7 linked regions of the Homo sapiens genome follow. The protein of the gene in region 1 purifies or fractionates together with the protein of each later gene. This does not show direct contact. Each region holds a gene or a part of one and is shown in the gene's direction. Other genes may lie near its edges.

Evidence for each region.
Region 2: the proteins of MFNG (region 1) and PPFIBP1 purify together in Homo sapiens (affinity purification with mass spectrometry; one large-scale study listed by BioGRID and IntAct). This does not show direct contact.
Region 3: the proteins of MFNG (region 1) and CIP2A purify together in Homo sapiens (affinity purification with mass spectrometry; one large-scale study listed by BioGRID and IntAct). This does not show direct contact.
Region 4: the proteins of MFNG (region 1) and HAPLN3 purify together in Homo sapiens (affinity purification with mass spectrometry; one large-scale study listed by BioGRID and IntAct). This does not show direct contact.
Region 5: the proteins of MFNG (region 1) and RMND1 purify together in Homo sapiens (affinity purification with mass spectrometry; one large-scale study listed by BioGRID and IntAct). This does not show direct contact.
Region 6: the proteins of MFNG (region 1) and CLPTM1 purify together in Homo sapiens (affinity purification with mass spectrometry; one large-scale study listed by BioGRID and IntAct). This does not show direct contact.
Region 7: the proteins of MFNG (region 1) and HS6ST1 purify together in Homo sapiens (affinity purification with mass spectrometry; one large-scale study listed by BioGRID and IntAct). This does not show direct contact.

The regions. Positions count from the first base shown.
Region 1 is NC_000022.11:37,476,043-37,480,361, reverse strand, and holds part of MFNG (beta-1,3-N-acetylglucosaminyltransferase manic fringe), read left to right. Parts: intron 1-62; coding exon 63-165; intron 166-863; coding exon 864-1,017; intron 1,018-3,380; coding exon 3,381-3,466; intron 3,467-4,319. UniProt on the Homo sapiens protein: Glycosyltransferase that initiates the elongation of O-linked fucose residues attached to EGF-like repeats in the extracellular domain of Notch molecules.
Region 2 is NC_000012.12:27,530,229-27,534,547, forward strand, and holds part of PPFIBP1 (liprin-beta-1), read left to right. Parts: intron 1-4,319. UniProt on the Homo sapiens protein: May regulate the disassembly of focal adhesions. Did not bind receptor-like tyrosine phosphatases type 2A.
Region 3 is NC_000003.12:108,582,620-108,586,938, reverse strand, and holds part of CIP2A (protein CIP2A), read left to right. Parts: intron 1-1,726; coding exon 1,727-1,874; intron 1,875-3,855; coding exon 3,856-3,962; intron 3,963-4,319.
Region 4 is NC_000015.10:88,881,655-88,885,973, reverse strand, and holds part of HAPLN3 (hyaluronan and proteoglycan link protein 3 isoform 2 precursor), read left to right. Parts: intron 1-4,248; coding exon 4,249-4,319. UniProt on the Homo sapiens protein: May function in hyaluronic acid binding.
Region 5 is NC_000006.12:151,424,231-151,428,549, reverse strand, and holds part of RMND1 (required for meiotic nuclear division protein 1 homolog), read left to right. Parts: intron 1-967; coding exon 968-1,068; intron 1,069-4,319. UniProt on the Homo sapiens protein: Required for mitochondrial translation, possibly by coordinating the assembly or maintenance of the mitochondrial ribosome.
Region 6 is NC_000019.10:44,957,949-44,962,267, forward strand, and holds part of CLPTM1 (putative lipid scramblase CLPTM1), read left to right. Parts: intron 1-4,014; coding exon 4,015-4,127; intron 4,128-4,319. UniProt on the Homo sapiens protein: Involved in GABAergic but not glutamatergic transmission. Binds and traps GABAA receptors in the endoplasmic reticulum (ER).
Region 7 is NC_000002.12:128,266,415-128,270,733, reverse strand, and holds part of HS6ST1 (heparan-sulfate 6-O-sulfotransferase 1), read left to right. Parts: intron 1-1,863; coding exon 1,864-2,572; 3' UTR 2,573-4,319. UniProt on the Homo sapiens protein: 6-O-sulfation enzyme which catalyzes the transfer of sulfate from 3'-phosphoadenosine 5'-phosphosulfate (PAPS) to position 6 of the N-sulfoglucosamine residue (GlcNS) of heparan sulfate.

The DNA.
Region 1 (4,319 bases):
GTGTTCAGGGCTCTGAAGGGGGGACCTGGGCAGGGTCCCCTGACTCCTCCTCACTTCTCCAGGGTCCCACCTTGTGGTCACCAACTGCTCCGCGGAACACAGCCACCCAGCTCTGTCCTGCAAGATGGCTGCTGAGTTCGACACCTTCTTGGCCAGTGGGCTTAGGCGAGTGTTCCTGGGTCTCTGGGGATAAGTGTGGTCTGGGCCCAGTGAAAATAACCCCTGGGACTCCTGGGGTCTGACTTCAGCCCCCACTCCTCTAGCAGGCAGTGGGCAGATGGCTGGGAAGTCCAGCTGGGTTCCAGTCCTGACATTCAGGATTGGGTATGTGACCTTGGGAAAATGGCTTTTTTTTTTGAGACAGAGTATCGTTCTTCTTGCCCAGGCTGGAGTGCAAATGGTGCAGTCTCGGCTCATTGCAACCTCCGCTCCTGGATTCAAGCGATTCTCCTGCCTCAGCCTCCCAAGTAGCTGGGATGACAGATGCCCACCATCATGCCTGGCTAACTTTTGTAATTTTAGTAGAGACGGGGTTTCACCATGTTGGCCAGGCTGGTCTCGAACTCCTGACCTCAGGTGATTCACCTGCCTCGGCCTCCTAAAGTGCTGGGCTTACAGGCGTGAGCCACCACACCTGGCCAGGGCGAGTGTCTTAACCTCTCAGTCTTGGTCCTCAACTGTGAAGTGGGTACCCTCCTCATGAGCTTACACAATATGCAACTTGGCACAAAACAGATGCCTTAAATGTCAGCCTCTCCCACCCCTACCCCCATTCCGTCACTGTTGACCGACTGTGGGGGTGCTTGGGGACCCTGGCTTGGAACCCCCCCAACAAGTTCACTGTCCCCGTTTCATCCCTACAGGTGGTTCTGCCATGTGGACGATGACAACTATGTGAACCCAAGGGCGCTGCTGCAGCTTCTGAGAGCCTTCCCGCTGGCCCGCGACGTCTATGTGGGAAGGCCCAGCCTGAACCGGCCCATCCATGCCTCAGAGCCACAGCCCCACAACCGCACGGTGGGTCCCTCTCCTCCTCCTTTGCCCCTTGGCCCGCTGATCCCAAGGGCCGGGCCGGTCCTGGGGGTGGGGGTGTGCTAGAGAGGTGAGAGGGGTTCTGGGTTTCAGGTTTGGCCCTATGTGGGTTTGGGCTGGTAGCTTCCCCTCTTCAACCCTCAGTCTCTTCCTCTGTGAAATGGGGAGACTGAGATCATGCAGTCGTGGCACAGACACAGTACATAGTGAGGCCTCCATCCCCCAGGAACCACGGCTTGTCCTGGTCACTCAGGGAGCATCCAGGTGAGCTGAGGCTGTGTGACACCACAGCAGGGCTCCCAGTCACCTGGTGTCCCCATGTAGGTGTGCAGGTTGTTAAAATGCTGGAATGGCTGGGGGCAGTGGCTCATGCCTGTAATCCCAGCACTTTGGGAGGCTGAGGTGGGTGGGTGACCTGAGGTCAAGAGTTCGAGACCAGCCTGACCAATATGGTGAAACCCCGTCTCTACTAAAAATACAAAAATTAGCTGGGCATGGTGGCGGGCACCTGTAGTCCCAGCTACTCGGGAGGCTGAGAGAGGAGAATCGCTTGAACCCAGGAGGCGGAGGTTGCAGTGAGCTGAGATTGTGCCACTGCACTCCAGCCTGGGCGGCAGAGCGAGACTCCGTCCCTCCGTCAAAAAAAAAAAAAAAAATTGCTGAATACTGTGGGGCTGGGTGATTGCTGCCACCTGAGCCCCAGAACCCTTCCCCACCTTCCCCTCCTGGGGCACCCTCTCCCTCCAGACACCTCCACTAGCCTGTGACTGAAGAGTCGACACCTGGCAAAACAGGGGGCTCTGTACCCGCCTCAGTTCCTGACCTGGATGGACACTGATTTGGGTTGCCAGATTCATTAAACAAATAAATGAAAAACCACTACATCCAGTTAAACTTGACTTTCTCATAAATAATGAGGAAATTTTTAGTATAAGTATGTCCCAAATATTGCATGGTTCTCTCCCTGTCCCCAGGACCCCCTGGGCATCAGGTGTTAGAGTGGTCCTGGCCCTAGGGCTCCCTTGGCTCCAGGAAGAAGGCAGATCGGGAGGTCCCTCTCTAGAGGCAGTGCCTGGTGCAGGAGCTGGGCACACAGCGGGGCTCAACCTCCCTTCCCAGGTCCCCATCTGCTTCATTAGGAAAACCAAGAGCAGAAAACACAGAGCCTTAATTATCAGTAGCTAATCAGCCTCTGAGCCTTAATTAAATTCTTCTGGGCCCTAGGGCTCTGTGTATGAGTGATTCCAGGGGAGCCAGGGGGTCCCCCAGGCTCTCACACCACTTCACTGCTGGCGACTCACCTCTGCCTAAGCAGTTTGCCTCTGGGGTGGAGAACTGCACGCTGGAGCCTGACTCCCTGGGTTTACACGGCAGCCCTGCCACCTCCTGGCTTTGTGACCTTGACTGAGGTCACCTCACCTCTCTGTGCCTCAGTTTCCTAATCTGTGAAATGGGTGATAACAGCCCCTACTCAAAGAGTGGTCGTGAACACAGAAGAAAGAATGAAATGAGGTCATCTCTCCAAGTCCTTGGAATGAGACCTGGCACGAAGTCAACACTAGAAAGTGTTAGTGATCTGAGGCCGGGCGCGGTGGCTCATATCTGTAATCCCAGCACTTTGGGAGGCCGAGGCAGGTGAATCACCTGAGGTCAGGAGTTTGAGACCAGCCTGGCCAACAAATAGTTAAACCCTGTCTCTACTAAAAAATACAAAAATTAGTTGGGCGTGGTGGCGCACGTCTGTAGTTCCAGCTATTTGGGAAGCTGAGGCTGGAGAATCGCTTGAACCTGGGAGGCGGAGGTTGCAGTGAGCAGAGATGGTGCCACTGCACTTGAGCCTGGGCAACAGAGCAAGACTCTGTCTCTTAAAAAAAAAAAAGTGTTAGTGATTTGTATTGGACACAGCCTGACCTTTGTTTCCCAGCCACATCTTTCCTATGCACACTCAGGCCCCGTCAACCTAGGCCCACCTCTGTGGCCCAGGAGAGCAGGTGCCATGTTCGGCAGCCCCTCCCAAGCCACATGGAGTGAGGTAGAGACCTTTCTCAGGGGAAAGGGGCATGGTGGCTGGGTGGGTAAAACAACACCTGTCCCCTTTAACTGGAATTCAGCTGGACTTGAGTCTGATCAGTGACCTCACCACTCATAATTAACTATGTGACTTCGGGCCTCTGTTTTCTTATCTATAGAATGGGTGCAATAATGCCAGGTTGTAGCAAGACTCTAGTGAGATTCAAAATAAAGGGCTTTTGAGCCATGCTGGTTGGGGGTGAAGGGTGGCCTGGCTGTCCCTTTTCCCCACAACTGCCACCAGGCTCACTCTGCCCCTTGGCCTTCCTCTCTCTCAGAGGCTGGTACAGTTCTGGTTTGCCACTGGGGGTGCTGGCTTCTGCATCAATCGCAAACTGGCTTTGAAGATGGCTCCGTGGGCCAGGTAAGCAGAGACCCAGGGGTGGGCAGGAAGGCGGGGAGGGGGTGGCAGCTGGGGTACAGGAGGGGCCTTTGCAGCAGGAAGGGCTTTGAGAGTGAGCTCAGGAGAAGCTGCTCCTCATTTGCGTGTGTCACAGAGCGGCAGTTGGTGGTGAACAAGCCACCTGCCACCTGCCCTCAGGGGCTGCACGGCTGAGCGCATGACGTGCCACTCACAGGCAAGTCATGTCATCTCCAAGAGCCCCAGTCCCCCCGTCGGCACATGGACCTGATAATGCAGTGGCCAATGGTGTAGTAAGGGTTAAATGAGAAAATGTCTGGGCTGGCCCTGGTAGGTGCTATTTACCGCCCTTTTCTGACTGGTCAATGCCGTAGGGGAGGTGAAGGCCAAATCTAAGGGTCTTCAGAGGAGGGAGAAGGGCCTTCTGGGTGAGGGAAGAAGGGAAGGCTTCCAGGAAGAGGTGGTATTTGAGCTGGGACAGTCCACTATACACTGGGCCATCTAAGGGAGATGATATTACTCCTAATAGCACAGTGGGTGTACATCCTGTGATATTATTCATAATATCATCTAAGGGAGATGATATTACTCCTAATATTATGAGGGGATCTCAGGGGTAGTGGAGGCCGCAGTGTGGGTGGGGGTGGGACACAGGTGTTCTAGAAGTGGCGAGGCCTGGCTTCTGGAGGTCTTTCCGGGCTATTATTATTATTAACAGCACCATCAGCAGCCACTCCCTTGTATTGAGGACTGACTCTGAGCCAGCTCTGTGCTCCATCAAGAGGATCACAACACCTGGGGGAGAAGGTGGCATTAGTCTTGTTTCTAGATCTCAGGCAACTGAGGCACTGAGATT
Region 2 (4,319 bases), on another chromosome or scaffold:
ACTTTTTCTTGTGAATGATGGAAGAGTCGAATGAACCTGTGGGTTCTCGAAATTAACTCTGGGAAGTGAGAGGGTGGAAGGGAAACAGTGACGACTCACAGGAGACACACTGGTTGAACCTGTGATCTTGCCAGGGCCATTTGTGTGAAGTCACCTGAATCTCGGTGTTTTTCCTCTGGATCAGCTGCCTGGATGGTTTTGTCAAACTTTCAGATCCTTCCATCCTCCACCCCCATCAATGTGTGACTTTGCATAACTGAGAAAGCTACTAAACACAGAATTAAGTTTCTTTTATTGTTTTTCTCTACTAAGGGAATTTGATTCTCTAGGATGACTTGCACTTCATGTGGGAAAGACACAGCTGGATGCCCAACTGATATCCATTCCCCCCTCCTTTTCTGTAACTGAACCCATTTTGTTTAATTCACCACTATGTCCAGTTAAGTGCTAGATTTCCCAGAATCCCTTGCAGCTGGGAGGTGGTTCAGTGACAGTAGTCCTGGCTGATGAGATGTAAATAGCTGGATGCCCCGTTCCCCAAAGCTCTTAAAAGGGGAAGCCTCTGTGAGCTTGCCTGTTAAGCCTTTTGCTCTTTGTACTTCTTCCCTGGAGAAAGTAAGCAGGCCATCGCGTGACCAAAGACAAGATGCTTGAGGGTTAAGGATGAGTGGGTGGAAGGTTAGAAGGAGGCTGAGAAGCTGATAGCATTCTGCAACTGCTCTACTGGACCCATTTCTTGACTCTGTGAGAAAAATAAAATCTCTACTTGGTTAAACCACAGAACTTGGGTCAGTTACTTGCAGCCAAATGTGATCTTAACTGAGTCTAGATGTCTAAAAATCATAGTTCATCTTTTCTTTAAAAATAAAAACGTGTTATTTTGTACGAGAAAAACAGGACTTTGGAGCCATGCAGATCCTCAACTTGAATCCTGGCTTTGCTATTTATTACAGTCTAATATTGGCAAGTAACTTAACCTCTCTGGGTCTCAGCTTTCTCATCTATAAAATGGTAGCTCTGATATATGTGCCATAGCATTTTTTGAAGGATTAGAAATAATTAGAAATTATTATTATTTTTTTTTGAGACAGTCTCGTGCTGTCACCCAGGCTGGAGTGCAGTGTTGCAATCTCGGCTCACTGCAACCTCCACCTCCTGGGTTCAAGCGATTCTCCAGCCTCAGCCTCCCAGGGAGCTGGGATTGCAGGTCCCCACCAGCATGAGCAGCTAATTTTTTTTTTTTTTTGTATTTTTAGTAGAGACAGGGTTTCACCATCGTGGCCAGGCTGGTCTCAAACTCCTGATCTCAGATGATCTGCTGGCCTCAGCCTCCCAAAGTGCTGGGATTACAGGCATGAGCCACCACGTCCGGCCAGAAATTATTAATAGGAATAATAATGGCATATTCAGCACATGGAAGATCTTCAACAAATGGTGGCACTGTTACCAAAGGGAAGTGTAGTGGGGAGTCTGAAAGGGGGAGGCAAAGAATTCAGCTCTTTCTCCTAGAAGGTTCTCGGTAGGTTTATAGCTACAATCCCTTGACTCCATCTACTTGGCATTTATTCCGCCTCCTGTCTCTTATCCTCATTCCCACCTGCCCACACCAGACTACTTGGAACTCTTCTGTTTTCCAGCTTTGGTTTATAAGGATGTCCTTATAAAAATTTTATTAACTATAGCATAGGGATGAAGGGCGGGGACTCCAGAGTCAGACAGATGTGGATTAGAATCCCCTGTTGTTACTAGCTGTGTGATTTTGGTTAAGTCTTCTGTGAAATGGGAATAATTGGGTGGTTATGAAGATTACATCTGATAATGTATGTGAAGCACTAACAGCTGGTTTCTTGGCACACGACATGCACTGCTTTGATGACAGATATTGTTGTTACTATTTCATTAAGCACGTGTTAAGCAATTCCCAGCCTTGGTACAAGATCCTCTTGGAGACGGAAAGACAAACAAAACATGATCTTTACCTTAAGAGTATTCACATACAGGAGATGGGGGCAGAAAGAGATGGCACACCTTATTCATAACTGTAATAAAATGCAGATTTAGAATACTGTTTAGCTGTTAAAAAGATTGAATATACTGACTTGTACAGATGTCTATTATATATATTTTAAGAAGTAAAAAACCAAGCACACGTGTATGGTTTACATTTGTCAGTGCATGAAAAACTGCCAAGTGGGATGGCTTATGGGAGTTGGGATGAAGGGAACTTTGTATTTTTTTTTTTTTTTACAGTATATTACATCTATATTACATTACTCGAGAAATACAAAATATGTTAAAATTTTAAACATCTATTTATTGGTCCTTTTGGAGGTTGGTTGGGGAAGAGCATTCTGTGAACTAGACTAGTCACCAGAGCAAAGGAAGAGACTGGGTTTCTTGAGGTTTCATTAGAAGAGGTGGGATTTGACTGGGTCTTAAAGGGTGGGGAGGAGATTTTGAGGAGGCAGTGGGGACAGATGAGCATACTTGGGTTTGGAGCAAAATGTAGAATAGAGTGAGATTCGATTTAGAGAAAAGAGAGAACAATATTGTTTGAAAAGACGTAAGCTATATTGGGGCAAATCTTACAGGGTTTTAAAGAGAGTGACAAGATTGTACCTTAAAACAGGATGTTTTTAAGAAAAGAAGAAGTAAGGGAACTATTGTTTTATAAAAATGACTCTGGAAATAGCAGATTGGGTATTTCTAGTGGGTATATGGGCAAGGGGAGGGAGAAGGACAGAACACCCTAAATCAAGAATGGCCCGTATACAAAAGTTAATTTTCTTTTAAAGATGATGTCTTGCTATGTTGCCCAGGCTGGAGAGCAGTGGCTATTCACAGTTGTGATCATTGTGCACTCATGGGCTCAAGCAATCCTTCTGACTCAGCCTCCCGAGTAGCTGGAACTACAGGGACATGCCTCCATGCCTGGCTAAGTGAAAGTTGAATTTTAATGGGAAATATGAGTTAAGATTTGAACATCTGGAGTTTGAAATTCCATCATGACCCACATTATCCTTAATTTTCTCATTGTATAAATGGATAAAATAATAATACCTATCTTATCAGGTTTTTAGGAGAATAACAATAATAATAGGTAACACTTACCTGGTAGGTTATACTTTTTATGTACCAAGCACTACTCTAAGCACCTTAAATATTTCAACCTAGATTAATCCCATATTACGATGAGGAATCTGAGGCACAAGGAGGCTAAGTAACTTTCCCAGGATCACACAGATCATGTGTGTCAGACTCAGAATTTGAACTCAGGCAGGTGCAGCTCCAGGGCCAGTATCTTCAGCCTCTTCATAGTCCTACCTCTGGCATGGTTCTGTACTTGGGGTGTTAAAAGCCAGTATGAACTGTTAGTTGACATTATTCATATGAAGATGTTAAGCAAGAATTTAGAAATTTAGGCTTGGAGTTTAGGCCAAAGCCTGGACTAATGGATCATCTCTATAGGGCTGTTATGTAAAGAGTGAGAATGGTTGAGCTCCCCGAACAAGAGTATGTAGAGTAAAAAGAGAAGCAAGCATACAGTCTTCAGGGGACTCCTGATATTTAGAAATGGTCAGGCAAAAAAGAAGTTAGGAGAGGAGATAGAGCAGGATCTGCAGAGAAGTGGAGGATGATGGTGGCCAAGGGAAGAAGCACAACGTAAGTGAACTAATCATGCCATCCAGTGCAACAGACTCGTTACAAAGCTGTATCCAACAGACTGTCCCTGGTCCTGCTGTCAGGTCAGTTCATGAACCTGGAATCCAGAATGCAAAAAATTGAGGACTACACGGGGGCTGATGAACTGCAGGTGGCCTGGTTAGTTCATCCTTTCAAGGAACTGATCCGAGAGAGACATGGTAGATAGCTTGGGTTTGAGGAAGGCTCAGGTAGAGAGGAGGATATTAAAAGAAGAAAAAGGGAGGAAGGAATGAGTGCATGGTCCAGGGTAGAGAGATGGGGCTAGACCCAAAATCAAGTGGAGGGCAGTGGGTTAGCCTCGAAATCCATAAGAACCCTTCTTCTGATGCGATGGAAGAGAGGATAGGGGAAATGGAAAAAAAAAAGATGTGATCAGAAGGGATACGAATTGAGTAAGTTCACTGCAGGCGGTCTGCATTGATTTATCAGTAGAGTAAGAAGCAGTGAAAGGAAATTCACAGACAAGTAACTCAGGCTCCTGAGAGGATGGCTCTGGGGATTATTGTCATGGAGGAAAAATTTGAAAGAATGACAGAAGTCTCTCATCTGAACAATACAAACTGACACATTTGCCAGAATGTGTCTCGAGGCAGGAAGTTGGTTTATTGAAGTGG
Region 3 (4,319 bases), on another chromosome or scaffold:
GCAAAGAGAGATGGGTATCATGTGAAAGGAGATTATTCATTCTTCTGTACTTCTCCCACACTTTTATAGCCCCATGCAGAGTGTAGGCTTTGAATGTTTGATGACTGGCAAAGCTGAGCTAATCTGATTTTTAATGATGATGTTTCATAACACTAATTTTGTGTAGTGATTAAAAGCATGAATTCAGGAACCAAGCTGCCTAGATATGAATTCCAGTTGTGCTTCTTTACTATCAGTGTGTACCTCAGTTTACTCATCTGCAAAACAAAATAGTGGTACCTACCTTATAGAGTTATTATGAAGATGAAAAGAGTTCACATATGTAAAGTGCCTAGATCGATGCCTAGGCCAGAGTAAGTGCTGTATAAGTATTAGTTATTATTAAAATAAATTATCTTTGTTTTAAGAGATTCAGTATAAGTAAAGGGAAAACTTGTAAAGCAATTTTTATTTTACCTAGTGCATATAATTATTACATGTTAGACAATTTATGTTAATGAGATACAGGACCAATCCTATAGAGAATCATTTTTAAAACAGCAAGTGTCTTATTCTGGAGAGCTAGATTTATAAATAAGCAACAGGGTAATGCCCACAGTATTTCCTACCCCAGAATATCTGTTACTGGCATCTGCACTTTCATATTTGGACTTATTTTTTCTTGTATAGACTTTTACTTTAGTAATGTTAAAACACTCCTTGGGAACAGATAATGTGAAACTCTTATCAGCAAAGCCTTAGAAGAAAAACTGATGTGGGTGAGAGAATAAAGGGAGGATACAGAAAGGAAAGATTAGAGGGATGCTAAAGCAGCCTGCTTAGGCTTGATCTTATTAAAATAAGTATTCAGGACAGAGTTAGTCTTATTCTAAGGTAACTAATGGTTTTGCCATCTTTGTAGAAAAGATATGCTTTGTAATAAATACATCCATAAAGTATGTTGAAAATTCATGCTTTGAGACAACTGCTTTTGGCCTTTAGTTCCAGCTTTACCTCCTCTCTTCTCTCTTTCACTCTGTGTGTGTGTGTGTGTATGTATGTGTCTGTGCATGCGTGTATGTGGCTTATAGATTACAAGAAAGTAAAAAAAACAATGGAATAATCAGAAATAAAATTTTTCAATGCCTTGCCTGGCTACTTAAAAAAAGATTCACTTTTCACTTCCTTCTTTAATCCCTTAACTTCTGAGCTCACCTATTGTCTTTGGGAAGAAGCAGAAGGAATAATCCCATAACTACCCTCTGGGCTTCATTTTTCATTCTCCTCCCTCAAAGTAAGTAGAATGTATTAGAATTTATTTGCATAGTAAATATATTGGTACTAGAGTGCAGATTTGTAGGCTATGCCTTCATCGCATGTTCAATGTAGTGTGAAGGAGAAATATTGCTAGGAACTCAAAAGTTTGCTAACTTAGGAAATAGAAATATAATGTACTATAGGATAGCATAATAGGCCGACCGAACTGAGATGGTATAAGAAACTAAGAAAAGCTTCCTGGTGGAAATTATTTTAAACTGAGATCCAAATGATTACTTTAGCTAGGGAGGGAGGGATTAGGTAATTGATGGGTACTCTAGGCAGGGGTGAATTTTTCACAGCATGTGTGAATTTTTTAAATTGGGAAGGTAGCAGTGGCACTTTGAGGGAACTGAGTTTTTTATTTGAAATGGAGAAGAGATGAAAATTGCCATCGCTTAACCAACACATTTTGATTACTATTTTATAGGTAATTTCTGGACAGAAACTCACACGACTATTTACATCAAATCAGATATTAACAAGTGAATGCTTGAGTTGCCTTGTAGAGCTACTTGAAGACCCCAACATAAGTGCTTCACTGATCTTAAGTATTATCGGTTTGCTGTCTCAACTAGGTAATGCATTTAATTTCTCCTTTTTAGTTTTTGGAAGATGTATGAACAATATTTTAAAGTGCAGGCTTAGTTATAGAATCTCTTAAAGAATGATTCACCTTCAAAGACTTCTCAGTCTAGTGTGCATTGTGAATCTTTTGACACTGAGGAAGTCATAGCTACCGATCAAAGAATGATCCTTCTGTAATAGATTACACTGAATTTAGAACTAAAGGGTAAAAGTACTGATGTTGCTTTTTCTATCTTTTCCCCCATTTCTTTAGTTCTTAAATGTTCATTTAGTGGTCACTACTCCAATTTGGGGCAGGGCGGTGGGGATATTTCTTTGTGTGATTATAATAGTAATATATGCATAGTTTAAAAAATTCTAGTGATCCAGAAGTATTAACACAGAGCAGCATTGTCCAATAAAACTTTCTTCAGTGACAGAATGGTTTTAAAACTGTGTTATCCAATGTAGCAGCCACTAGCCACATGGAGCTATTAAGCATTCGAAGTGTGGGTAATAGACTAAGGAACTGAATCTTTAATTTTAATTAATCTAAATTGAAATAGCCACATGAAGGCTAGTGGCTACCAAATTAGACAGCCCAGACATAGAGTAAAATGGGGTGAGCCTGTACCCATTACCACCAGCCCTCATCTTTTCAGCTTTGAGGGTATAATCTCATTTAATGGTTTGGTATGTTTCTTTGCAGATATTTTTCTGTGCTGTAACAAAACAATACTTTTGGATCTTTAATTGGTTGTTTTCAGCACAAATGGTGTTGTGGAGCACCAGATGTTTCTTTCCATATCAGTATCTTTAATAGCTGCCTAGTGCCTTAATTACAGGGTACTGTAATTTATTCAACTATTCCCCTAATAGTGGACAGTCAACTGTCTTTAAGTTTTTGCTATTGGAATCAATAGTGCAGTGAACATTCTATGTAATTTTGCTCAAATATTAGTGTGTTTCTATTAGATAAATTCCATTAGAATTTCTAGATCATTCTAAAATTTGATAACCGTTACTAAATTGCTTTCTGAAAAGATTCTTCCACTTCTAACATCCACCAACAGTTTGAATGAATATGCCAGTCACTTCCAGTGTTTATACTTTAGAAGCATTTGAGGTTTCCAGAAAAATTGAAATGATAATCTTTTTAAATTAATTTTTTCACAGATACATAATATTTATACAAACTTATGGGGTACATATGATATTTTGTTACCTGCATAAAGTATGTGATGATCAATTGAGGGTATTTAGGATATCCATCACAAATGAGGATTTATCATTTCTATGTATTTAGAACATTTCAAGTCATATTTTGAAATATACAATACATTGTTAACTATAGTCACCTTACTCTACTATCAAACATTAGAACTTATTCCATCTGATTGTGTGTTTATATCCATTAATCAATCTGTCTTCATCTCCCCCACTAACGGCTCCCCCTCACACCTCCCATCACCACACACTCACCCATATTCTTCCCAGCCTCTGGTAACTGTCATTCTCCACTTCCATGAGATCAACTTTTTTAGCTCCTACACATGAATGAATACATGCAATATTTTTCTTTCTGTGTCTGGCTTATTTCACTTAACCTAATGGCCTTCAGTTCCATCCGTGTTGCTGCAAATGGCATGCATTCTTTTATATGGCCAAATAGTATTCCATTGTGTAAATATACCATAAAGTGATAATCTTTTAATATTCAAAGTAAATGATTTTAATTTGATACTAAAATAATTAGTATCAAAGAAAAAGCTTGCTACAAATGTGTAAACAAGTTTTTTCTTTGATACTAGTTTATTTTACATAGAGAAATCATTTGAATTTCTGAATTGGAGGGTTATCATAAAGAAAATAAGAAAATAGCCATATCATACCTTTTTTAATAATAAATTCATATGAAATAAATTCTGTATGAATTATCTGCAAAACCTTGTAAGAAAATGATATATTTTGTGCTTTTATTTTAACTTATAGCAGTAGACATTGAAACCAGAGATTGTCTTCAGAATACATATAATCTGAATAGTGTGCTGGCGGGAGTGGTTTGTCGGAGCAGCCACACTGATTCGGTGTTTTTGCAGGTATACAGACCCACACAGTGTATTCCCCTTTCCTTACTGTCAGATCAAAATTGATAGTTTCTGTCATAAACTGCTGACTTACAGTGTATATATGCTATATAATAAATACTACATGATTAGGCACAGTTCATCTCATTAAAAGCTGGTTGCACACATACAATTTAAATGTTTCTAGAGAAGAGAAGCTTATCCATTTCTATCACCACTATTGAAGAAAAACAAATCTACATTATAACTGCTTTGACTTATAAACACAGATGTCTGTGTTTTGAGACATAAGCTATTTATATTAAAATTGTAACGTGAGTTGGCATCTAGTCTCAATCTGTGGAGGAAACGTTCTACAAAAATTAAAGC
Region 4 (4,319 bases), on another chromosome or scaffold:
TCATCCCTTCTCATAGATGAGCAAACTAGGCTCAGAGAGTTGATCCAGTTGTCCAGGTCAAACAGCTATTAAAAAGACAAAGCTGAGGGCTGGGTGCAGTGGCTCATGCCTATAATCCCAGCACTTTGGGAGACTGAGGTGAGTGGATCACTTGAGGTCAGGAGTTCAAGGCCAGCCTGGCCAACATACCGAAACCCTCTACTAAAGATACAAAAAATTGGCCAGGCGCGGTGACTCACACCTGTAATCCCAGCACTTAAGGAGGCCGAGGTGGATGGATCACGAGGTCAAGAGATCAAGACCATTCTGACCAACCTGGTGAAATCCTGTCTCTACTAAAAATACAAAAGTAGCCGGGCGTGGTGGCAGGTGCCTTTAATCCCAGCTTCTCAGGAGGCTGAGGCAGGAGAATTGCTTGAACCTGGGAGGCAGAGGTTGCAGTGAGCTGAGATCATACCACTGCACTCCAGCCTGAACGACAAAGTGAGACTCCGTCTCAAAAAAAAAAAAAAAAACACAAAAAACAAAAAATTAGCCGGGTGTGGTGGCGTGCACCTGTAATCCCAGCTACTCAGGAGGCTGAGGCATGAGAATTGCTTGAACCTGGGAGGAGGAGGTTGCAGTAAGCTGAGATCACACCACTGCACTCCAGCCTGGGTGACAGAGTGAGACTCTGCCTCAAAAACAACAACAACAAACTTGTTCCACTTGTTTGTGGAAGGAACGAACCAGATGGCTGGTCTCAGTAATAGCCAGCACCTGCCATGAAGAGCGCACAGCCTGGTTCAGAGACGACACATGAGCCTGCAAGTGCAGTGCTGGGTGTTTCTCACCTTTCCCTCTGCCTTTGAGTAGATGATTGTGCCTGCAGAGGCATTTTCCCTCTTTTGATTAGTCTCCTAGGTCAGCTGTAACAAATTAACACAAACTTGGTGGCTTGAAACAACAGAAATGTATTCTCTCACTGCTTTAGGCACCAGAAATCCAAAATTAGTTTCACTGTGCAGAAATCGAGGTGCGGATAGGACTGTACCTCCTGTGGCTCTTGGGGAGAATCTGTTCTTGCCTTGCCTCTTCCGGTTCTGGTGGCTGCTGGCATTCCTTGGCTGTAGCTGCCTCACTGCAGGCTCTGCCTCCTTGGTCACGTGGTCTTCTCCTCTTTTATATGCAAATCTCCCTCTGCCTCCCTCTAAACAGGTACTTGCGCATTTGCATTTAGGGCCCACCTGGGAAATTCAGGATACCCTCCCCATCTCGACATCCTTAGTTTAACCTCATCTGCAAAGTCCATTTTGCTACATAATTAGGATTTAGGGTATTTTGGGAGGCCATTATTTAGCCCACCACACCCTTTTCCTTCAGAATTTATTTTGTTATACAAGCCCTACTTTATTTATTTATTTATTTATTGAGACAGAGTCTCGCTCTGTCACCTGGGCTGGAGTGCAGTGGCGCGATCTCGGCTCACTGCAAGCTCTGCCTCCTGGGTTCACGCCATTCTCCTGCCTCAGCCTCCCGAGTAGCTGGGACTACAGGCATCCGACACCATGCCTGGCTAATTTTTTGTATTTTTAGTGGAGATGGGGTTTCACCGTGTTAGCCAGGATGGTCTCGATCTCCTGACCGCCTGATCCGCCCGCCTTGGCCTCCCAAAGTGCTGGGATTACAGGCGTGAGCCACCGTGCCCGGCCTACAAGCACTACTTTAATGAGATTTGCGGAATTTAAAAAACTTAAACTTCCTACTCATAGTTTCACTACACTACCAGGCCAACATTTCATTTTTGTCTTTCCCTTTTGTCCCTGAATATGTAAGCAAAGTCATATATAATCCCCCCACCCAGGGGAACCACTGTTAACTTTTTAGGTATCTCTTTCTAGCCTTTTCTTTTTTTTTTTTTTGAGACAGGGTCTCACTCTGTCACACCAGTGCAGTGGTGTGATCTCGGCTCACTGCAACTTCTGCCTCCTGGGCTCAAGAGATCCTTCCACTTTAGCCTCCTGAGTTAGCTGAGACTACAGGCGTGCACCACTGTGCCCAGCTAATTTTTGTATTTTTAGTAGAGATGGGGCTTCACCGTGTTGGCCACGCTAGTCTCGAACTCGTGGCCTCAAGTGATCTGCCCGCCTTGGCCTCCCAAAGTGCTAGGATTACAGGCGTGAGCCACTGCACCTAGCTGAGCCATTCTTTTATGATTTAGAAAACTTTCTCCAACAAAAACCAGCTCATGTCATACATGTGATTTTTGTATTCTCCCTTATCACCTCATAGAATAGAACTCGTTTTCTAAGTCAATGATTGAATGTACATCTACCAGATTATTTTACATGGCTGTATAGTATTTTATCATATGGATGTACATTTTCATTTTATTCAGGTTAAAGCTTCAAAGGTAGTTTACTTAAGAGAGTTGGGAAGAACCAAGGAAGTGGCCCCTAAATGATAGCCCTGCTTCATATTTATTGGACACTTTCTGTGTGCCAGGCATCCTGCCTTACCTGATTTGAACCTTACCACAGCCCTCTGTAGGGACTGTAATTAACCCATTCTACAAATGGGGAAGCTGAGTCTTGACTTCCCTGGATTACACAGCTGGGAAAAGGTGGAACCAAGGGCAAGCCCGAATTGCCTGACTCCAAACCTCTGTACCTACTGCCTCTGCAGAGCAGGACAGCTCTAATCTGAATGAGCCTGAAAGTCCCCTGGAGGCTGGACCCCATTCCCAGAGTCTCTGAGGCACTGGGACCCCACAATGTGCATTTCTGACAAATTCCTGGTGATGCTAATGCTGCTGGCCCGAGGGCCACACTTGGAGACTTCTGCATATGGCAATCTGCTACATTAGGTATAGCTCTTTTTTAGCACGATTCCTCTACAGGGAACCTCCCTGTCTGTCTCCTGCTTACCCATGAGGCTGTCCCCTTGCCTCCACCTTTTTAATTAATTAATTTGTTTTTATTTTGTTTTTGGCAACAGAGTCTTGCTCTCTCACCCAGTTTGGAATGCAGTGGTGCGATCATGACTCACTGCAGCCTTGACTTCTGGGCTGAAACAATACTCCCACCTCAGCCTCCCGAGTAGCTGGGACCACAAGCATCTACCACCATACTCAGCTAGTTTTAAAAATTTTTTTGTAGAGACAGGGTCTCACTTTATTGCCCAGGCTGGTCTCAAACTCCTGGGCTGAAGCGATCCTCCTGTCCTGGCCTCTCAAAGTGTTGGGATTATAAGCGTGAACCACCGTGCCTGGCCCCTGTCCCCACCTTGAGTAAATCAAGCATGTCTTGAAGTCTAGACCCAAGAGAATGAATCAGTGAGGTCCCAACAGGGGCTCCCAAGTTAAAGATGAGGCAGCCTTAGCCTATGAACTTGATTCTTTTGTTGCATGTTGAGTTCTGTGTGTATTTGTAACTCTGAGCCGTGAGCGTAGTCTCCTTTAGAAGTTCTGCCCTTAGCTCAGTAGGCTGCTCCGTATTTGGGAAGAGTTATGGTGGACAGCTGGACCAGAGAGTAAAGCCAGGGCTGTGCTGTCCTCTGGCCAGTGTGGTGGGGAAGGAAACTCCGACGGATCCCTATCAGGGCCACTTGTCCTGGCCATGTACCTCATGTGGGGTGGCTCTTGTTGCCTGCTCCATTGGTTAGATTTTATGCATAGCAAACCACCCAAAACTTAGTGACTTCTTTAGGATGACAGCCATTTGTTTAGCTCATGATTCTGTGGGTCAGCATTTTGGAGTGGGCTCCATTTCTTCAGGTCTTGCGGTTGGGTCTTGCAGATGTGCCTGCCCATGGTGGGCAGGTCAGCTGGGGGCTGGTTGCTGTAGGATGGCCTCAGCTGGGGCGCCCTGTCTCTGTTCTGTGTATTCTCTCATCCTCTAGCAGGCAAGCCTGGCCATGTGCTCATGGTGGCTGGCAAAGTCCTAAAAAAAGAGTGGAAGCAGCAAGGCCCCCTGGGACCTATGCTCAGAGCAGGCATGATGGATAACAGTCACTTCCAAGGCATTCAGTTGGTCAAGCAAGTGGCAAGGCCAGCACAGATTCAAGGGGGTGGGGGAATAACTGTCATCTCTTGATGGAAGGAGATGCAAAGTCACATTGCAGAGCATGTGGATACAGGGAGGGGTGGAGCATGGTGGCCATTTTTGCAATCTGAGCCTGTAGGAGCCGTGGATGAGGGTGTGCGGTGGCCCTTGCAGGGGTACAGATGTGCTTCAGCAGGTCTCATCTGCACCCTGTCTCTCCCCCAAGACCTCCTTAATGGAGTGAAGCTGGTGGTGGAGACACCCGAGGAGACCCTGTTCACCTACCAAGGGGCCAGT
Region 5 (4,319 bases), on another chromosome or scaffold:
TTACATATATACATATTGTGTAAGTCCACATATCTTTTGATCTAGCAATTCCTAAAGAAGTATTCCCACAAAGCCATGAAGACCTTTGCACAAGTGTGGCACATCGCAACATTGTAATGGAGAGTAGAAAAAATTCCCCATGGAGGACACACCTAGGTTGGTTAAATAAATTGCAGTTCGTCTGTAAAGGAAAATAGTGTTGAAAATGTCATGTGCATAATATGATCCTATTTTACATAAAAAGCAGCATAAATATGTACATATATACACATAAAAAGTCTGGAAGGATATGCACCAAGTTTAATCATGGTTGCCTCTGGGGATTAGGATTTCAGTACAGAAGAGAGAAAGAGATGATCACCTCCCACACCTGTGTGGCTTAATTTTTTATTAGTATGTTGGGCTTTACTTTTTATTTTTTATTTATTTATTTTTTTGAGATAGGGTCTTGCTCTGTCACACCGGCTGACATTGGCTCACTGCAACCGCCACCTCCCAGGCTCAAGCCAGCCTCTCAGGTAGCTGGGACTACAGGTGTACATCACCACACCCAGATAATTTTTGTATTTTTTTGTAGAGACAGGATTTTGCCACGTTGCCCAGGCTGGTCTTGAACTTTTGAGCTCAAGGATCCACCCGCCTCTGCCTCCCAAAATGCTGGGATTATTAAAGAGATTTAAAGAATACAAATTATAATATTACTAGTGATTTTCCTTGGGTTGTGGGATAATGATAACCTTGATTTTCTTCTCCATTCTCATCTGTGTTTTCCAAATGTAAAAACAAATGAACATGTCATCCTGATTACTTTAATATCACAATGGATTTGATTTGCCTTTTCCTTAAAAACATGCAACAGAAATAATGCCTGTAAGTGTAATGAAGACTGTTATAAGCATTAAAATCATAACATACTTGAACTGAGGGAGTCAGTTATGATTTCAGATTAATCTTCCTTTTCTTCTAGATGAAGCATGTGATGAAAGTTCTAGAAAAACATGAAATTCAGCCCTATGAAATCGCACTGGTACACTGGGAAAATGAAGAACTTAACTACATAAAAATAGAGTAAGCAACTTTTCATCAAATTTATGAAAGGGGCACTTGGAATAAATTAGGTAAAGCAATAGAGGAGACAAATTATTATGCATATGGAAACTTTTTTTTTTTTTTTGAGACGGAGTCTCACTCTGTCGCCCAGGATGGAGTGCAGTGGCACAATCTCGGCTCACTGCAACCTCTGCCTCCCGGGTTCAAGCAATTCTCCTGCCTCAGCCTCCTGAGTAAGTGGGACTACAGGTGTGCACCACCACGCCCAGCTAATTTTTTGTATTTTTAGTAGAGACAGGGTTTCACCATGTTGGCCAGGATGGTCTGGATCTCGACCTGGTGATCCGCCCACCTCAGCCTCTCAAAGTGCTGGGATTACAGGCGTGAGCCACTGGACCTGGCCTGGAAACTTACTTTTAAGAAAAAAGTGGCCAGGCGTGGTAGCTCACACCTGTAATCCCAGCACTTTGGGAGGCTGAGGCAGGTGGATTACCTGAGGTCAGGAGTTCAGGACCAGCCTGGCCAACATGGTGAAACCCCATCTCTACTAAAAAATACAAAAATTAGCTGGTTATGGTGGCGGGTGCTTGTAATCCCAGCTACTCGGGAGGCTGAGACAGGAGAATTGCTTGAACCTGGGAGGCGGAGGTTGCAGTGAGCCGAGATCACGCCATTGCACTCCAGCCAGGGTGACAAGAGTGAAACTCCGTCTCAAAAAAAAAGAGGAAAAAGATTACTGGTACAAATACAAAGTCTAAACCATATAATAAATATTAGAAGATAAACATAATTTTTTGAACTTCTCAGGCTATCCACAAGTTAAAACAAGTCAGTAGTATAGCCCCAAAATGGAAATGTTAAGTTTCTAATCAGCCTAATCCAATAAAATAGTATGCATTTATCAAATGAACCTATCAAATTATTCCAGTAAATTTTTCTCTTAATCCAGTTTTTTCCTATTGATTTTGGGGGGTGGGGGTATGAAAAGGAAGTATAGTGAGGGGTCAATCTAAGAGACCCACTTGTAGAAGTGTGGGTGCTGGAAGAAGTGGGACCTGGTGTACCAGTTTCACTAAGATAAATGGGTAGGCAACAGACTAGCTGATTTTCCTGACTCAGCCAGAGGGAAAAAATGAAGAGATGTTAGGGCCGAGACAGAGGCAGTATGAACAAGATGGTAGTGTCTTTTTCCTCATGGAGTTACCTGTCTAGTGAAATATGAGTCTTTGCAGGTTCTTAAGAAAGGTAGTGTTAGCCAGATTTGGTGGCTCACACCTGTAATCTCAGCACTTTGGGAGGCCAGGGTGGGAGGATCAACTGAGTCAGGAGTTCAAGACAGCTTGGCCAACATGGCGAAACCCCATCTCTACTAAAAATACAAAAATTACCCGGGCATAGTGGCGAGTGTCTGTGATCCCAGCTACTTGGGAGGCGGAGGCGGAGGCAGAGAATTGCTTGAACCTGGGAGGCAGAGGTTGCCATGACCTGAGATCGCACCACTGCACTCCAGCCTGTGCAACAGAGTGAGACTCTGTCTCAAAAAAAAAAAAAAAGCGTTAAAAGCAGAGCTTTGGGAAGACTTGGAAGAGAGACAGAGACTAGCTATAGAAAGACCAGATGGGGATAAGAGCTGAGTAATCAGCGCTCACCACCAATAGGGCCAGTCACGGTTTTCTAAGTAAGTGCCTTCCATGTATTATTTCATTTAATCCTGGGGAAAACCCTATAATTGCAGCTAACTGGCTTTCCGATGAGATTTATTGAATCCTGTCTTGCCAAAGGGCACCTGACTGTGAGTCAGCCTGAGCCCAGTGGTGGCTGCAGTCAGAGGTAAGGATATAAACCTGAGAGAGACAGCAAATGAGCAGCCTGTAGTTTTATTATCTTTAGTAGTTACTCAGCCCTTGGCCTGCAGATACAGCTCCTGTGAATCCCCTTTCTGTGTTCTATTAGGTTTACATTAAAATGGCAAAAACCGCGATTACTTTTGCACCAACCAAATACTTCCATATCCAACTACTGCTAGACCCTTGTGTGTGTGTGTGTGTACGCTTATCCACACACACACACACACGTTACTGTACAGTCTGTGAGGAGTAAAATCCTCAGTGCTTAGGATCCCAGAGTCAGTTATTTTGTTTCGTCAGAAAGACTGTCCTGGCTGCCACCTACATGGTTATTATGTGAGTTCTGCCATGATTCCAGGGATCTGCTCAGCTCTGTGGCATGGGCCCAGTTTACTCATAAAGCATCTTGTGACCAAGCACAGTGGCTCATGCCTGTAATCCCAACACTTTGAGAGGCCAAGGCGGGCAGATCACTTGAGGTCAGGAGTTCAAGACCAGCCTGGCCAACATGGTGAAGCCCTGTCTGTACTACAAATATAAAAATTAGCTGGATGTGGTGGTGCACTCCTGTAATCCCAGCTACTCAGGAGGCTGAGGCAGGAGAATCGCTGGAACCCAGGAGGCGGAGGTTGCAGTGAGCGAAGATCACGCCACTACACTCCAGTCTGGGTGACAGAGCAAGACTCCGTCTCAAAAAAAAAGACCTCTTGTGACTGCTGTCTTTGCTTTCCTTCCTCCATCTGAGGCTGTCATAGCAGATGCCGCCCTCCATCAGGCCCCTTGTCCCCCTCCCTTTGGCCGTCACTTCTTGTCTGACATCTTTTGTGAAGGTTTACCCTGTCTTTTTTCCATTTGCTTGTGATGTTTATATTCACACATTCCGCTCTTCCCCTGTCCCCTGTCTAGGATTCTCCACAGTCACATACTCATTTTTCACAACTTCCTTGCCTCCCTCCCCAACCCCATCATGTCAGTGTGATTTTAGATTACACTCCATATATAGTTTTATATGCAGCATTTTTTCACATAGAAATTTACTGTGAACGTTCTCCTTTTTATTAACTATCCTTCCAAAACACACTTTTAAGTTTTTCTTGTGTGGAGTGACTATTACTGAGCCAACCCCTACTGAACATTTGGTTTATTTCCTAATTTTTTACTCTTAAACACTGACCTTTTTTTTTTTTTTGGAGACAGAGTCTTGCTCAGTCTCCCAGGCTGGAGTGCAGTGGCGTGATTTCGGCTTACTGCAAGCTCCGCCTCCCGGGTTCACTCCATTCTCCTGCCTCAGCCTCCCGAGTAGCTGGGACTACAGGCGCCCGCCACCACACCCGGCTAATTTTATTTTGTGTTTTGAGTAGAGACGGGGTTTCACCATGTTAGCCAGGATGGTCTCAATCTCCTGACCTCGTGATCCACCTG
Region 6 (4,319 bases), on another chromosome or scaffold:
TTTATAGGGGAAGCACAGACAGGGACACACAGTGAACAAGATAAATAAGAAAAACAGCAGTTCAGATGGCTCTGCGTGCCATGGACAGAAATAAAGCTGGGATGGGGATAGGAAGTGAGGGGTGGGTAGAAGAGTTGCAATTAAATAGGGTAGTCTAGAAGGCCTCTCTGAGGAGGTGACGCTTGAACAAAGACCTGAAGGAAGTGAGAGAGGGAGTCCCAAAGATACACGAGGGAAAAGCTTTTCAGGCAAAGGAGCAGCCAGTGCGAAGGCCCTAAAGTGGGAGGTGCCTGGTGTGATGAAGGAAGGGCGAGGAGGCTGGAGCGGGTGAGGGGAGAGGGGTGGCTGGGGACAGATGCAGATTATGCCAAGCTTTGGAGGCCATGGGGAGGACTTGGCCTTTACTCTGAGGGAAATAGGAGCTGAAAAGAGTGACTCTTTTTTTTTTTTTCTTTTTTCTGAGACGGAGTCTCGCTTTCTCACCACAATCTCGGCTCACTGCAACCTCCGTCTCCTGGGTTCAGGCAATTCTTCTACCTCAGCCTCTCAAGTAGCTGGGATTACAAGCACCTGCCACCACACCCAGCTAATTTTTGTATTTTTAGTAGAGACAGGGTTTCACCAGGTTGGCCAGGCTGGTCTTGAACTCCTGACCTCAGGTGATCTGCCCACCTCGGCCTCCCAAAGTGCTGGGATTTCAGGCGTGAGCCACCACGTCCAGCCTTGTGGTATAATTTAGATGGTATAACGTTCACCTGTTCTTAGGATAGAGTCCATTGGCTCCTGGTCCATTTATGCAGTTGTGTGGTGCAGCCATCACCACAGTCTGGTCTGAGAAAGCTTCTGTCCCCTCAAAAAGTTCCCTTTTACAGTCTCTGCTGCTCCCAATCCTAGGCAGCCACAGAGGTGCTATCTCTGTAATTTTCTAAAAATGTCTTAAACAAGGATCTAAACAACATCCAGTCTTTTGTGTCCAGCTTCTTTCATTGGGCATAATGGGTTTGAGGTTCATGTTGTTACATAGATCTGCAGTTGTTCATTTTTATTTTATTTTTTACAACCTAGGATCAGGGAAATTTGGCCTTTGGGGAAATCCTAAAGTACGTGCTCACAGTTGTTCCTTTTCACTGCTCAGTGGTAGTCTGCAGACATGACACAGTTTATTCTTTCAGTCCTTGAAGGATATTTGGATTGTTTTTAGTTTTTGTCTGTTGCCAATAATGCTGCTATGAACATTCATGTACAGGCTTTTCTGTGGCTGTATTTTGTTTCTTTTTTTTTTTTTCTAAGTAAGAGAGACAGGGTCTCCCTGTGTTGCTCAGGCTGGTCTCGAACTCCTGGGCTCAATGGATCCTCCTGCCTTGGCCTCCCAAAGTGCTAGGATTATAGGCATGAGCCACCACACCTGGCCACTGTTTGTTTTTGAGACAGAGTCATGCTCTGTCGCCTAGGCTGGAGTGCAGTGGTGTGATCCTGGTTCACTGTAGCCTCATTCTCCAAGGCTCAATTGATCCTCCCGTCTCAGCCTCCTGAGTAGCTGGGACCACAGGCATGCACTACCACACCTGGCTAATTTTTGTATTTTTATAGAGATGAGGTCTTGCTGTGTTGCCCAGGCTGGTCTTGAACTCCTGGGCTCAAGCAGTCTTCCTGCCTTGGCCTCCTGAAGTTCTGGGATTATAGGCGTGAGCCACTGCGCCTGGTCTGGCTTCATGTTTTCTGCCTCCTGGGTAGCCATTCAGGATGGGTTTGCTGGATTGTGTAGTAGGTGCACATATGACTTGTTCAATAACTGCCATATTTTCCGAAGTAGCTGTACTTTTACTTTCCCCCCTAGCAGCATACGAGGGTTCCTGTTTTTCCACATCCCTGCCAGCACTTGTGATTGTCTTTCTGCTGATAGCCATCCTAATAGGTGTGAAGTGACACCTCATTGTGGTTTTAACTTGCCTTTCCGTGGGAAGGTTCCCAGCCAGATTGCCCATCACTAACGGGTAAGCGAAGAGACCTGGGAGTCAGTCAGATGCAGCTTCAAATCCTGACCTGGCATCAAGTGTCCTTTCCTGACCCCAAATCAGCTCAGACCCATTGAAACCCATACTTGGACCCCTAAATTTCCCAATAGCTAGGCTGGCCTTGAGGAGGGGGCCTTGTGCCTGTCTGATTTCCCTTCCCCAGCCGACCCCCGCCCCATAGATCTCCTCATCAGAATGTGGCTTTCTCTGTCTCAGCCTAAGGGTCTCACCCAGACGACCCAGACGTCAAAGGGAGCTCCTCAGGGAGGCCTCTCTGACCACCCACTCCAAAGTGGATCCCTGTTCCCAACTCAGTTGCTGTCACTTCCCCCTGCTTGTTTTCCATGTACCATTTTTAATTATCCTGTTTACCGTTCTAGTGTGTTTCCTTCTAGATCCCCAGCTCTGGGTAAGCAGGGCCCAGATTTCTGTCTAAAATGTTCCAGTATTTTCACAACCTGGTCCACAGGTCAGAGAGGTGAAGTGATGTGCCCAAGGTGTCACAGCCAAGAACGGTGGGACCAGGACTATAGCTGAGGTCTGTTTGACCCTGGAGCCCCTCCAATGGTGTCCTGTGCTTTGGGAGATTACAGGAAAGAGCTCTTGCTGGTGAAGGGGACAGGAGGTGACAAGTGACACATTTAACACATGTAGCCCCTCTAACCATGCTCCTGGGACATTTGCTATCTGGTGGGTAAGGTGAATGGAGAAAACATTGCAGAGGAGTGGACTAGGGGCTGTGGAGGAGAGGGCCAGACACTGGAGCCTCAGAGGGAAGTGGGTTTGGGTGACCTGAGCGTCCGGGGTGAGTCCTTCAGGCAGCGGTGGCCACACAGGTGTTTATCACAGCCTTGCTCTGTGCCACTGGTGCTCTTGAGCTAACTGTGACTGTGATAGCCCTGGTCCTGCCTCTTGAAGGCTGATGGCTGAGGGGACAGCTGGGAGGAGGGGTGAATGAGAACAGGACTGGGGAGCTAGCAGGGTGCGTGAAGGGTGAGCAGAACATCCCCTTCCAAACCTGGCATTCAGAGAGTCTCTGATTGTGACCTTCTGTGTCTGAGTGAAGAGTCCTCCTCTGGGAAGCCGTGCCTGGCTCCCTTGCCTGCCCCCCTTCCCTTCTGTCATTCTGCTTCTGCGGTCCTTCCTGAGTGACCAGACAAGTGGCTTCACCTCTCTGAGCCTCCCTTTGCTCAGCAGCCGGATGGAGCTGGTCATAGTTTTGGCCTCAGGATTAGTGTGCTGTGTGCTGTCACAGACATGTCTTGTGGCCGTGGCTTATGGTAGCAGCTGATAGTCTGGTTGTGTTTTTCTGTGTCTGTCCCACCTGCTGGACCAGGGGCCCTTGGAGGGCAGGGTTGGCCACAGAGGGGGCCTCAGGAATGGTTTGCCCAGGGAAGGCTCTTTCAGCTAAGCCCCAGCCTTGAAGAATCTGGCACCTGCCATAAGACTCCTTCTGTTGTTGTCCCCAATAGCCACCTCCTTGCATCCTGGCTCCAGCCCCAGGGAACAGTGGACAGTCATCAGAATCAGACTGTGCCTCTAATCTTCTGTTTCTGCACCTGCTGCTTCTCTCACTTCCTCCTTTGTGCCACCAACTTGCTATGTTTTAGGTCTCAGCTTCAATGCCCCCTTCTCCAGGAAGTTGCCCCGAACCCTAGACTGGACCAGGTGCCTCTCAGGGCTCCTGCATTCCTGCCCCGTTCTGGACAGTCACTGTCTAGAGATGAATCTTTCTCCCCCACCGGGCTGTTAAACCCCAGGAGGACAGCAAAAGACTCTCTAGGTCACCACTGTCCCTAGGTCACAGAGGTGCTCTGCGAGTGTTTTCCTCCTAAAAGAAGAGGACCGCACCTTCCCAGGTGTTTTCACTGATTCATTCTCCAGTTATTGATAAGCACCCACTCTTTGCCCAGCCTGTGCCTGGCCTTCATGCATGATGGTGTCTAAGACAGCCCCCGTGTCCATTCTCCCTCCTTACCCTGGCCTCTGTCCCCCACAGGTGACCAGCAATGGCAGCATCGGGAGGGACCCGCCAGCGGAGACCCAGCCTCAGAACCCACCGGCCCAGCCGGCACCCAATGCCTGGCAGGTCATCAAAGGTGTGCTGTTTAGGTGAGCAGACGGGACTTGGGTTTGTTCACCGAAAACATTCAAATAAAAATAAGGAAGAAAGGAAAAGTCAGCTGATCAGCTGAGGATGGTGATCATTACTGTATGGTAGAGTTGCTTTTTTTCTTTTTTTTTTTGTATGATGGAATGTTTTCTAAACCTTTTTTTTACTCTGGTAAAACATACTGAAGTAGG
Region 7 (4,319 bases), on another chromosome or scaffold:
GTCACGGCCCCACAGGAGTGGGGAGCGGAGGTCCATGCGGCCCTATGCCTCCCCTGGACACAGGGTCAGCTAGGAAGGATATGGATAGCCTCTTCTGAGCAGTCAGGGCCTCGTGAGCCTGAGGCAGGAGACAGAAGCCTGCCCCGGCCGCCTCGGGCCCTTACTCCCTGGCCCTTGGTCATTATTGTTTCTAAAACGTTTGTCTCACCTGCTACCTGAAGAAGGTCCCGCCCTCTGGCCCTTGAGGCCCCGAGTGCCCAGGAGCTGCTGCCATCAGCATGGATGGGTGGTACCAGGCAGGCTGTGGGTGCAGGGTGCTTGGGGAGGGCCAGGTGTGCCTTGGGACGTGTGAAGTGGGAGCCTGGAGCAGGGAAACTGAGGCCTGCTCTCGCCCCTGCTGCCCACAGCTTATCTGCCCCCTGGAGACCAGCCGTGCCTGACCCTGGGGTCGTCAGCTCAGTCCTGCTGGGTCCTTCCTCCACCCCATCTGCTGAGAGCTCCTCCAGGGCAGGGTCTGAGCCTGCCAGGCCACAGAAAACACTGGGCGGATGACAGCTGCCTGTCCCTTCCTCGGCAGTCTGCATGCAGTAGTGCTGGCCTTGCTGCCTGCCCCTGGAGCCATCACTGGCTACCCCGCCTGCTTCAGAGCTGCCACCCCTGGGGCTTTCTGACATGTCCTCATAGGCGGGGGTGGCCTGCAGTGGCACCGCACCACTTGCCAGGCACTGTGCCTCCCTCCCTGCAGGGAGGTGTGCGGTCAGATCAGGCAGTTGCCAGCGGACACCAAGAAGCGCTTTGTGCTCCCCGGGGTCCCTCCATGCCCCCCACCCCCACCCCTGCCCAGGGCAGTGTGAGGGGAGGAGGGGAGCAGTGTGGGTACACTTCCATGTTGCCATCTGGGGAATCCTGGCGGGGGGTCAGGGCCCTTCTGGAGCTGCTCCCCCGGGCAGTGAGGGGCCCTGTGGGCTCCTAGGCTGCCTGCCTGGCCCTGGTTCTACTTGGCCTGAAGCCCACCCACCCCAGCGTGGACAGGAGCCAGGAGGAGGAGCCCTCTAAGAATGACTGCAGCCTCTCCCGGGGCTGAGCCCACACACACACACCGGGCATATCCACAGCCGCCACCACGTTTTACCCACCTGTCCAGTGTCCTGACGCCTCCAGCCCAGCGTCATAGCGAGCCTGGCAAGGACATGCTTCATGCTGGGCTCCTGCCGCGCAGGGGAGGGTGGGAGGTGGAGTCTTCCTTGGGTCGTTTCTCCCTTGTGCACGCACCGTTACATACTGTGCAATGCGTTGGTGTCTTGGGGGACAACCCAGCAAGTAGAGTTGGTGTATACGTCATGGCTTCCTCTGGGGTCCTGGGCTGGCTGGTCCGCTGGGCACCCCCCCCCCAACCACCACCAGGCCTTGGCAGGACCCTGGGACTGGGACTGGAGGTGACCCTCGCTGGCCCCTGCCCACCTTCTGTTCCTGCTGAGTGGCTCTTTGGGTGGCACCATGCCCAGGCTGTAAACAGCTGGTGAAGACTGCTGGCCTCAGGCGGCTGTGGCTCTGCGACTTCTCTGGATGCGGTATTGGTGGCTCCACCCACCAGCAGGAAAAAGTCAGGTTGTCCCTCCAGAGGAGCCAGGCCAGGCGCTGCAGGGCACTGTGGTGGTCATCCTGGGTAGCCATGTGACCGTGGCATGCTCCTTGGCATCTCTGATACCGGGTTTTGAAACGACTGAGAGCTAAGTGCAGGAGTTGGTTGGCATTAGAGGCGAAGCCCAAACTCCTGTAGTGGGGACTTTGACTCAGAGCAGCCCTGGTAGCCCCCCTCATGCTGCGTCACAGCCCTCACCTCCTCTCCCCGTCTCCTTGCAGGAAGTTCTACTACATCACCCTGCTACGAGACCCCGTGTCCCGCTACCTGAGCGAGTGGCGGCATGTGCAGAGGGGTGCCACGTGGAAGACGTCGTTGCATATGTGTGATGGGCGCACGCCCACGCCTGAGGAGCTGCCGCCCTGCTACGAGGGCACGGACTGGTCGGGCTGCACGCTACAGGAGTTCATGGACTGCCCGTACAACCTGGCCAACAACCGCCAGGTGCGCATGCTGGCCGACCTGAGCCTGGTGGGCTGCTACAACCTGTCCTTCATCCCCGAGGGCAAGCGGGCCCAGCTGCTGCTCGAGAGCGCCAAGAAGAACCTGCGGGGCATGGCCTTCTTCGGCCTGACCGAGTTCCAGCGCAAGACGCAGTACCTGTTCGAGCGGACGTTCAACCTCAAGTTCATCCGGCCCTTCATGCAGTACAATAGCACGCGGGCGGGCGGCGTGGAGGTGGATGAAGACACCATCCGGCGCATCGAGGAGCTCAACGACCTGGACATGCAGCTGTACGACTACGCCAAGGACCTCTTCCAGCAGCGCTACCAGTACAAGCGGCAGCTGGAGCGCAGGGAGCAGCGCCTGAGGAGCCGCGAGGAGCGTCTGCTGCACCGGGCCAAGGAGGCACTGCCGCGGGAGGATGCCGACGAGCCGGGCCGCGTGCCCACCGAGGACTACATGAGCCACATCATTGAGAAGTGGTAGTGGCGGTGGTGGCCACGGGGAGGCCTCTTGGGGGGTGTGGGGGATAAAACAGGACAGACGACAGGTCCACCCAAGACTGTCAAGGGATGAGCATCCCAAACCTGCTCCACAGAGGTAGCTGCGTCCTGAAAAAAAACAGAGCAGGGATGTAGTGGGGCTGGGCAGGGATGGGGGCTTGAGAAATCAACAGGTGCAGCCCAGTGGGTCAGAGGAAAGCGTGCTCGAAGGATGCCATGGTCAGGGCAGGGCCTCCAGAGCAGGTGTTGTGCCTGGAGCTGCTCTCCTGGCCTCCTTGGATTTATCGCAAAAACTGAAGGTTTGCGCAAGAGACGAGGACAGCGGAAAGTGGACCTGCCAGGCCGGGAGTGTGTCCCTCACCAACTATGCACACAGCACTCGCTCTTAGCTCCTCTGTCCGGGCTACTAGGAGTGAGACCAGCTTCTGGCAACTGCCCCAGCTCCAGGCCATCCCATAGCCCCTCCTCTTCTGGCTGCCCCCAATGCCCCGAGGCCTGGGGAGCCCCCAGCTCACCCATCTGTAGCTCCCTCAAAGTCAGGGCCCACCCCATCTGAGGCAGAGAAGACTCGAGTCCAGCCCCCAGGAAGCCTGCTCCCCTCTCTGGCCCATGGTCCTGCTTCATGCTTTGGGTCAGGAGGCCAAAGCTGATGTTCAGGCCCCACCCACTCCCTACAGTCCTCAGACCAAGGAGGGGTTTGGGTAGTAGGCCCGAGCTGCATTGCCGGCCTTCCTCGGGCCAACTGGCAGCCCAGGAGTGGGGAGGCTTTGGCCAGGGATGCTGCCACTTGTGCGTGAGTCCGCGGCTGGCCCTTGGAGGTGACCATCCAGGCAGGCCTGGCTCAGACTGGAAGGGCTGGGGACCGAGGGCTCCCCTGCCTCTGTTCTCCTTTCTGACCCACTGGGATTTGCTAGCAGGCTGCCCCAGCCCCATCACCGAAACACATACTCAAGAGCTCAAATACCACTGCTCCCACCAGCGTACGGATTAAGTTCATCAGGCTTCCATCGGCTGGAGCATGGGACCATAGCCCCTGCCCAGGAGCCGTACCCTCGGACCACAGTGGCTCTGTATGGCCAGGAACTGGGACTCGAGCTTTCAGATTCTCAACTAGCCTTGGCAAAACAGCTGTAGGTGGCCTCCCTGACAACAGACACTCAGCCCTCCCCACCCTGGCTCTCCTTGCATTTCCCCATGCTCCCCACCCCCTGGCAAAAGGCTGGCCATGCTCTGTTCCCAGCAGCCGCGCAGGTTTCCCCACTGGCTGCAATGGCCCTACCAAAAGCCATGTTGCATATCCGTTGTAAGCACGTGCCCTGTGCCCTGTCCCCATTCCTTATGCCCTAGGAGGCCAAGCTGGTGTCTCTAGGAGGGCCCACACAGGCACCCTGGATCCCCCAGAGAGTAGATTGGTGTGCTCAGGCCGCAGGCTGACTCAGAGGTAGGGCAGTGGGCTCTGCAGGCCACCTGGCTGGGGTTGGTGGGGGTCCTCTCTCCTGCCCCAGCTTCCACTCAGCCACCACAGTTGCCACACCATGGGGTGGAGACGTGGGTCACCACGGGCTTGGGAGCAAGCGCCTTCTGCAGCACAGGAAGCCGAAGCTGGGGTCAGGTGAGGTCGCTACCCCTGGAGGTCTGGCATAAGGGCCCCACCCTCAGGTCTCCTACACTGGCCCCATTTTACTTTGGGGTCCAAGGACAGGATGGTCAACAGGGCAGGGTGGACAGCG